2 linked regions of the Homo sapiens genome follow. The protein of the gene in region 1 interacts with the protein of each later gene in a pairwise test. Each region holds a gene or a part of one and is shown on either strand. Other genes may lie near its edges.

Region 1 (3,648 bases):
CTTGGAGGGTGGATACCACTGAGCCTGGTTGTACAGCTGCCTCCGTGACCAGCACCTTTGCCCAAGGTCTCCCTGTTAACAATCGTCAGAGCTGGAACTTGAACTCGAGTCTTCTCTAGACCAGGTTTCTTCTAAGTATTTGGCATCACCAGGAAGAGCCCTGTACAAGGTGCTGGTGGTTTTATCCTTAGAGCCCAGATGTGAGGTGCTCACGTGTGTGCCTGGGGTTAGCAGTTGGTGTTTGTTGAATGAATGACTAAAATGCAGTGGGGCGGGGAGTCATGATAAGGTAGAATTTTATCTGAGGTGGAGTTTGCTTCTGAAATCAGGCAGTAAGGTGAATGTGATACCCAGTTAGGAGTATGTAATGCTGCAGGTAAACTGTAACAGCAAATGAAAGCAGTATTTCTCCAGGAAGGAAACAGACCCCTGGGTCCTCGGGCTGGGTTGGAAAAAGCCATTTGTAGAGAAATGGAACATGGTGGCTAGCCCTGCACAAGACATAGAGAAGAGACCCTTAACACTCCAGTTATCTCCAAGTGGGCAGTTAGAATGAGTGCTTCTAGGCCGGGCACGGTGGCTCACACCAGTAATCCCAGCACTTTGGGAGGCCGAGGCGGGCAGATCTTGAGATCGAGAGATCGAGACCATCCTGGCCAACATGGTGAAACCCTGTCTCTACTAAAAATACAAAAATAGCTGGGTGTGGTGGCGGGCACCTGTAATTCCAGCTACTAGGGAGGCTGAGGCAGGAGAATTGCTTGAACCCGGGAGGCAGAGGTTGCAGTGAGCTGAGATAGCACCACTGCACTCCAGCCTGGGCGACAGAGCGAGACTCCCTCTCACAACAAACAAACAAACAAACTGCAGTGCTTCTAAGGTGAGACTCATCGTGATGTTCTGATTAGAACGTTCTCGTGCCACAAAGTCCTGAGATGTGTCCAAGAAGCACCGTCTTCTGTCAGACACACCTCCTGCCCCGCCATAGGCCTTCCCACTGTGGCAGCAGAATCTGTGCTAGGCCTTCCTTCGTGAAAGAGGACAAGATCAGGGCTCACGTGACTGGGGCCGCTGTGACTCTGAGCCTCTGCGTTCTGTCAGATGAGGGTAGTGGTGCTTCCCCTGCGTCCTGCTGGGAGAAAAAAGGAGGCAGTAAATGAAAGGTGTCTCATCACCTGCTTCCTAAATAGAAGGGACAAAGAGGCTGAAAAACAGTAATAGTCTTGTTTTATGAAAATGCCACCCCTAATCTAGGAGCTGGGACTGCCATGCCAGGACCCCTCAGATAATGACATCCCTGAAGAGGATTAGCAGCTAGTCTGTTATCAGTCACAGGCAGTTCAACCCAGAAGATTTAAGGATTAGATTACCCAACAACCTTGAGTGTAGATTTTGTCTCTCATCACCCTTTGCATTAACTTTGGGTGCATGTGTGTTAATGAGGAAGTGTGTTCTGCTTTATTCTTGGTACATCACAGACATTTAATAGATACAGGTCATTAGAAATAAAAATTGTTTTAACTTGTATGAGTTTTGCAAGCATTGATATTTCAAATTGAAATTGCAGAAATTAGGACAGCATTTCATTTTCTTTTGTTTTTTTGAGACGGAGTCTCATTCTCTCACCCAGGCTGGAGTGCGGTGGCGTGACCTTGGCTCACTGCAACCTCTGCCTCCTGGGTTCAAGTGATTCTTCTGCCTCAGCCTCCCGAGTAGCTGGGACTACAGGCGGTCGCCACCACGCCAGGCTAATTTTTTGTATTTTTAGTAGAGACAGGGTTTCGCGGTGTTAGCCAGGATGGTCTCGATCTCCTGACCTTGTGATCCGCCCATCTTGGCCTCCCAAAGTGCTGGGATTGCAGGTGTGAGCCACTGCGCCTGGGCTTTTTTTTTTTTTTTTTTTTGGTTGGGGGACGGAGTCTCACTCTGTCACCCAGGCTTGAGTACAACGGTACGGTTTCCGCTCATGGCAACCTCTGCCTCCTAGGTTCAAGTGATTCTCCTGCCTCAGCCTCCTGGGTTGCTGGGATTACAGGCGCCTGCCATGACACCCGGCTAATTTTTGTATTTTTAGTAGAGATGGGGTTTTGCCATGTTGGCCAGGCTGGTCTTGAACTCCTGACCTCAGGTGATCCACCCACTTTGGCCTCCCAAAGTGCTGGGATTATAGGCGTGAGCCACTGAGCCCAGCCCCAAGTTGGTCTTGAGCTCCTGGACTCAAGTGATCGTCCAACCAGCATCTCATTTTCTAAAGAAAGAAGTACTTAGACCAGGTTTGGGACATGTCTCTGAAAATTCTGGGCTGGTGCAGTGGCTCATGCCTGTAATCCCAGCACTTTGAGAGGCCGAGGCAGGCGGATTGCTAGAGTCCAGAAGTGAAGACCAGGCTGGGCAACATAGCAAAACCCCATCTGTACTAAAACTAGAAACAATTAGCCGGGTATGGTGACATGCAGCTGTAGTCCCAGCTACTCGGAGGCTGAGGTGGTAGGATCACCTGAGCCTGGGAGGCTGAGGCTGCAGCAAGCCATGATTGCTCCACTGCACTCCAGCCTGGGCGACAGAGCAAGACACTGTCTCAAAAAAAAAAAAAAAAAAAAAAAGGAAGTTCTGTATTGATCAATAATTTCCTCCTCAGGACAGACCTGCATATGCCACAATTTAACTTTGTTGCAACATCATTCTACATTTTGCATGAATGGTTTCAAAAAACTTATTTCTATGACAGAGAACTTTGTCATTTATTCTTGACATATTAAACCTGAGTGACATTTTTAAATTTTTGTGTTGTGTTGTGAGTGCTTAGTGAAGATTCCTTGAATATGGATGTGAATGAATCTTATTTTTCATGGGTTTATAATTGTATTGTCCCTTTAAATATTCTACATTGAACATGTATCACCAGCAGAAATAATCATTTACGAGGTGAAGTGTCCAGAGCCATGTAGTGTCTGCATTGCTGTGTCCAGGGATTCTTTGTTTGTTTGAGACGGAGTCTCGCTCTGTCATCCAGGCTGGAGTGCAGTGGCACGATCGTGTCTCACTGCCGCTTCCACCTCCCGGGTTCAAGTGATTCTTCTGCCTCAGCCTCTTGAGTAACTGGAATTACAGGCGTGTGCCACCACGCCCAGCTAATTTTTGTATTTTTAGTAGAGATGGGGTTTCACCATGTTGTCCAGGCTGGTCTCAAACTCCTGAACTCAAGTAATCAACCCACCTTGGCCTCCCAAGGTGCTGGGTTTACAGGCATGAGCCACTGTGCTCAATCTGCGTTCTGAGGCATTCTGTGCCTGTTATGAAATCATGATGCTGGCAGGTCGGAAGATGGAATCGACTTCCCAGCCCCATCGGCTGTGCCCTGCCCTCCTTGCTGTCTCTAGAGCGCGGCTGACTTCGGGGAGAGCTCTCCCTGCCCTGTGCCTCTATTTTTTCACCAGGTAGGGTGGAAATGTGTTCTAGTGAAACTGCAGAACGAAAATATCCCGTCTTACTCTTGACCCTTGAAGAAGCAGGAGCTGAATTCAGGTGCCAGAGGCTGCGTCCGCGCGCTCCACATCAGTCTCAGAGTGGAGGCGAGCCCAGGCCAGAGGCCTCTACCCCGGACGAGGCTGCAGGTGCCTGACGGGAGGAGTGACTGCAGCTCAGCAG
Region 2 (3,648 bases), on another chromosome or scaffold:
TTAGCCTCCCAAAGTTCTGGGATTACAGGCATAAGCCACCATGCTTGGCCAATTCTTAAATTGTTTTTTCTTTTTGAGACAGAGTCTTGCTCTGTTGCCCAGGCTGGAGTGCAGTGGCGTGATCTCGATTTACTGCAACCTCCATCTCCCGGGTTCAAGCTATTCTTCTGCCTCAGCCTCCTGAGTAGCTGGGATTACAGGTGCCTACTCAAGTGATCCCCCTGCCTCAGCCTCCAAAAGTGCCAGGATTACAGCCATGCAGGCATGAGCCACTGTGTCCAGCCTATTACTTTTTTTTTTTTTTTTTGAGATGGAGTCTCACTCTGTTGCCCAGGCTGGAGTGCAGTGGCACGATCTCGGCTCACTGCAACCTCTGCTGACCAGGTTTACACCATTCTCCTGTCTCAGCCTCCTGAGTAGCTGGGACTACAGGCGCCCACTACCACGCCCGGCTAATTTTTTGTATTTTTAGTGGAGACGGGGTTTCACCGTGTTAGCCGGAATGGTCTCGATCTCCTGACCTCGTGATCCGCCCACCTTGGCCTCCCAAAGTGCTGGGATTACAGGCGTGAGCCACTGCACCCGGCCACTGTTTTTATATTTTAAATTTTGTCACTAAAAAGTTGTGAAAGTATGTTTTTTTCTCATCACGTAAGTCCCTATAAAATATCTTTGATTTTGCTCCGTGGCCTAGTTTGCTGACTCTGGCTGTAGACAGGGATAGCTCTTGCAACTCAAAGTCATTTAGACTATGCCTGATGCCCTGCTGATCCCCGACATCCTGCTGAGCCCCCTAAGGTATGGCAGGTGCCTCCAGCTGGGAGCTGTGCCTCCCCAACAGCCTGCTCTCCTCTATCTCAACAGCAGCCTGACCACTTCGCCAGCCAATCTGGGAATCAGGGTTACTCGCAATTTTTGCCCTCCCCCTGCACAGCGCTACTCCCAGTAATCCAGGCAAAACAAACGCCCTCTTGATCTCCCACCCCCTAAGTAGCCCAGAAACCCAGCCTCTCCTTCTGCCTTGCCTTTTTTTTTTGAGACATAGTCTCGCTCTGTCACCCAGGCTGGAGTGCAGTGGCGTGATCTCCACGCACTGCAAGCTCCGCCTCCTGGGTTCACGCCATTCTCCTGCCTCAGCCTCCCAAGTAGCTGGGACTACAGGCGCCCGCCACCACGCCCGGCTAATTTTTTGTATTTTTAGTACAGGGTTTTTGTATTTTATTTTGTATTTTGTATTTTAGAGACAGGGTTTCACTGTGTTAGCCAGGATGGTCTCGATCTCCTGACCTCATGATCTGCCCGCCTCGGCCTCCCAAAGTGCTGGGATTACAGGCTTGAGCCACCGTGCCCGGCCTGCCTTGCTTTTCTTTACCTTTAACAAGGATTATGGCAATGCCTCTCAATTCAATTCCCTCCCTTCCAATCCTTACTCCCCATGGGTGCTGCGCATCTTTCTAAAGCAATACTGGCAAGCACCTCTTCAGTTAAAGTCTTTAATGACTCCCAACTTGCAAGAGCAAGTCCAGACTCCCGCAAGCTAAGGGTTTTGCAGGCCCAGGGCTCCAGCTATGGGTAGAATGCAGCAGAGCCTGGTGAATGGAAGGATTTAACACTCCAGGATTTCACCCCACGGAAGCTGTGACTGAAAGTCTAGAACACAGAACTGGCTCCTCTAAGCACCACTGTGGGCAGTGCATTGCCATGCTGGGAGTAGGAAGAGACACTTGGCTTCTGAGTCTGCCTGGCCACCTTTCAGCCTGCACATCTCAACGCTGGCTTTATTCTTTCTATGTGCCATCACATATATACTGGTAATACATAAATGAGGAAAACAATGGTTTCTTTGTGAAAAATGGCTCCCCCACAAAGAAAGCCAATTTTTTTCTTTTTCTTTTTTTGAGACGGAGTCTAGCTCTGTCTCCCAGGCTGGAGTGCAGGGGCATGACCTCGGCTCACTGCAACCTCCACCTCCCTGGTTCAAGAGATTCTCCTGCTTCAGCCTCCTGAGTAGCTGGGATTATAGGTGAGCGCCACTACGCCCGGCTAATTTTTTTTTTTAGAGGGAGTTCTGCTCTTGTTGCCCAGGCTGGGGTACAATGGTGCGATCTTGGCTTACTGCAACCTCTGCCTCCCTGGTTCAAGCGATTCTCCTGCCTCAGCCTCCCAAGTAGCTGAGATTACAGGTGTGTGCCACCTTGCTTGGCTCATTTTGTATTTTTAGTAGAGACAGGGTTTCTCCATGTTGGTGAGGCTGGTCTCGAACTCCTGACCTCAGGTGATCCACCCTCCTTGGCCTCCCAAAGTGCTGGGATTACAGGCGTGAGCCACCGTGCCAGGCCTGATTTTTGTATTTTTAGTAGAGACAGGGTTTCATCATGTTGGCTAGGCTGGTCTTGAACACCTGACTTTGTGATCCGCCCACCTCAACCTCCAAAGTGCTGGGATTATAGGCGTGAGCCACCACGCTCAGCCAAGAAAGCCAATTTCTAGGGAGACTGAGAAAAGTGATAAGACAGTAGAGGTTTAAGAGAGGGTGGTTCCTGGTCAGAAACCAAGTCTTAAATAAGTTAGAGAATTTCAAATTAAGGGTGCATATGTGACAGGAACGCATGAGCTGTAAGTGGAAATGAGAACAAGCAGCTTGGAAAGCTGTCAGCAAGGACAAACAGGGCTTCCCAAGAGACAAAACTTCAGAGAAGGCCGAAGGGTTTGTGTGATAATGATGTACACAGGAAATGCATGACTGAACAGAAGTTTGATAGGAGAAACTTATTTTAAAAGCTTTTGAGGCCGAGGCGGGCAGATCACTAGGTCAGGAGATCGAGACCATCCTGGCTAACATGGTGAAACCCCATCTCTACTAAAAATACAAAAAAAATTTAGCCGGGCGTGGTGGCGGGTGCCTGTAGTCCCAGCTGCTTGGGAAGCTGAGGCAGGAGAATGGCGTGAACGTGGGAGACGGAGCTTGCAGTGAGCCGAGATCACGCCACTGCACTCCAGCCTGGGTGACAGAGCGAGATTCCATCTCAAAAAAAAAAAAAAAAAGCTTTTAAGTGGGCCAGGCACAGTGGCTCATGCCTGCAATCCTAGCACTTTGGGAGGCTGAGGCGGGAAGATCAGTTGAGCCCAGGTGGTTGAGATCAGCCTGGGAGACAAAGTGAGACCTTGTTTCTACAAAAAATACGAAAATTAGCAGTGCATGGTGGCCCATGCATGTAGTCCCAGCTACTTGGGAGGCAGAGGTGGGAGGGTTGCTGGATCCTGGGAGGTGGAGGATACAGTGAGCAGAGACTGCACCACTGCACTCCAGCCTGGGCGACAGAGCGAGACATTGTCTTAAAAAAAAAAAAAAAAAAAAGGCAAAGTTTTTAAGTGACAGTATTCCTGCATTTATGGATTAAAGGTTTTGACAGGATCACAAAAATTTTACTCACAATTTATTGCATTTTTTTTTTTTGAGATGGAGTCTCTGTCGCCCAGGCTGGACTGCAGTGGCTTGATCTTGGCTCACTGCAACCTCCACCTCCCGGGTTCATGCCATTCTCCTGCCTCAGCCTCCCAAGCAGCTGGGACTACAGGTGCCCACCATCACCCCTGGCTAATTTTTTGTATTTTTAGTAGAGACGGGGTTTCACCGTGTTAGCTAGG

What was found. The genes of interacting proteins can lie anywhere in the genome.
Region 2: the proteins of DNAJC5 (region 1) and SNAP29 come close enough for resonance energy transfer, tested with the Homo sapiens proteins (one study listed by BioGRID).

What each region holds. Positions count from the first base shown.
Region 1 is NC_000020.11:63,897,997-63,901,644, forward strand, and holds part of DNAJC5 (dnaJ homolog subfamily C member 5), read left to right. Parts: intron 1-3,648. UniProt on the Homo sapiens protein: Acts as a general chaperone in regulated exocytosis. Acts as a co-chaperone for the SNARE protein SNAP-25. Involved in the calcium-mediated control of a late stage of exocytosis. May have an important role in presynaptic function.
Region 2 is NC_000022.11:20,875,966-20,879,613, reverse strand, and holds part of SNAP29 (synaptosomal-associated protein 29), read right to left. Parts: intron 1-3,648. UniProt on the Homo sapiens protein: SNAREs, soluble N-ethylmaleimide-sensitive factor-attachment protein receptors, are essential proteins for fusion of cellular membranes.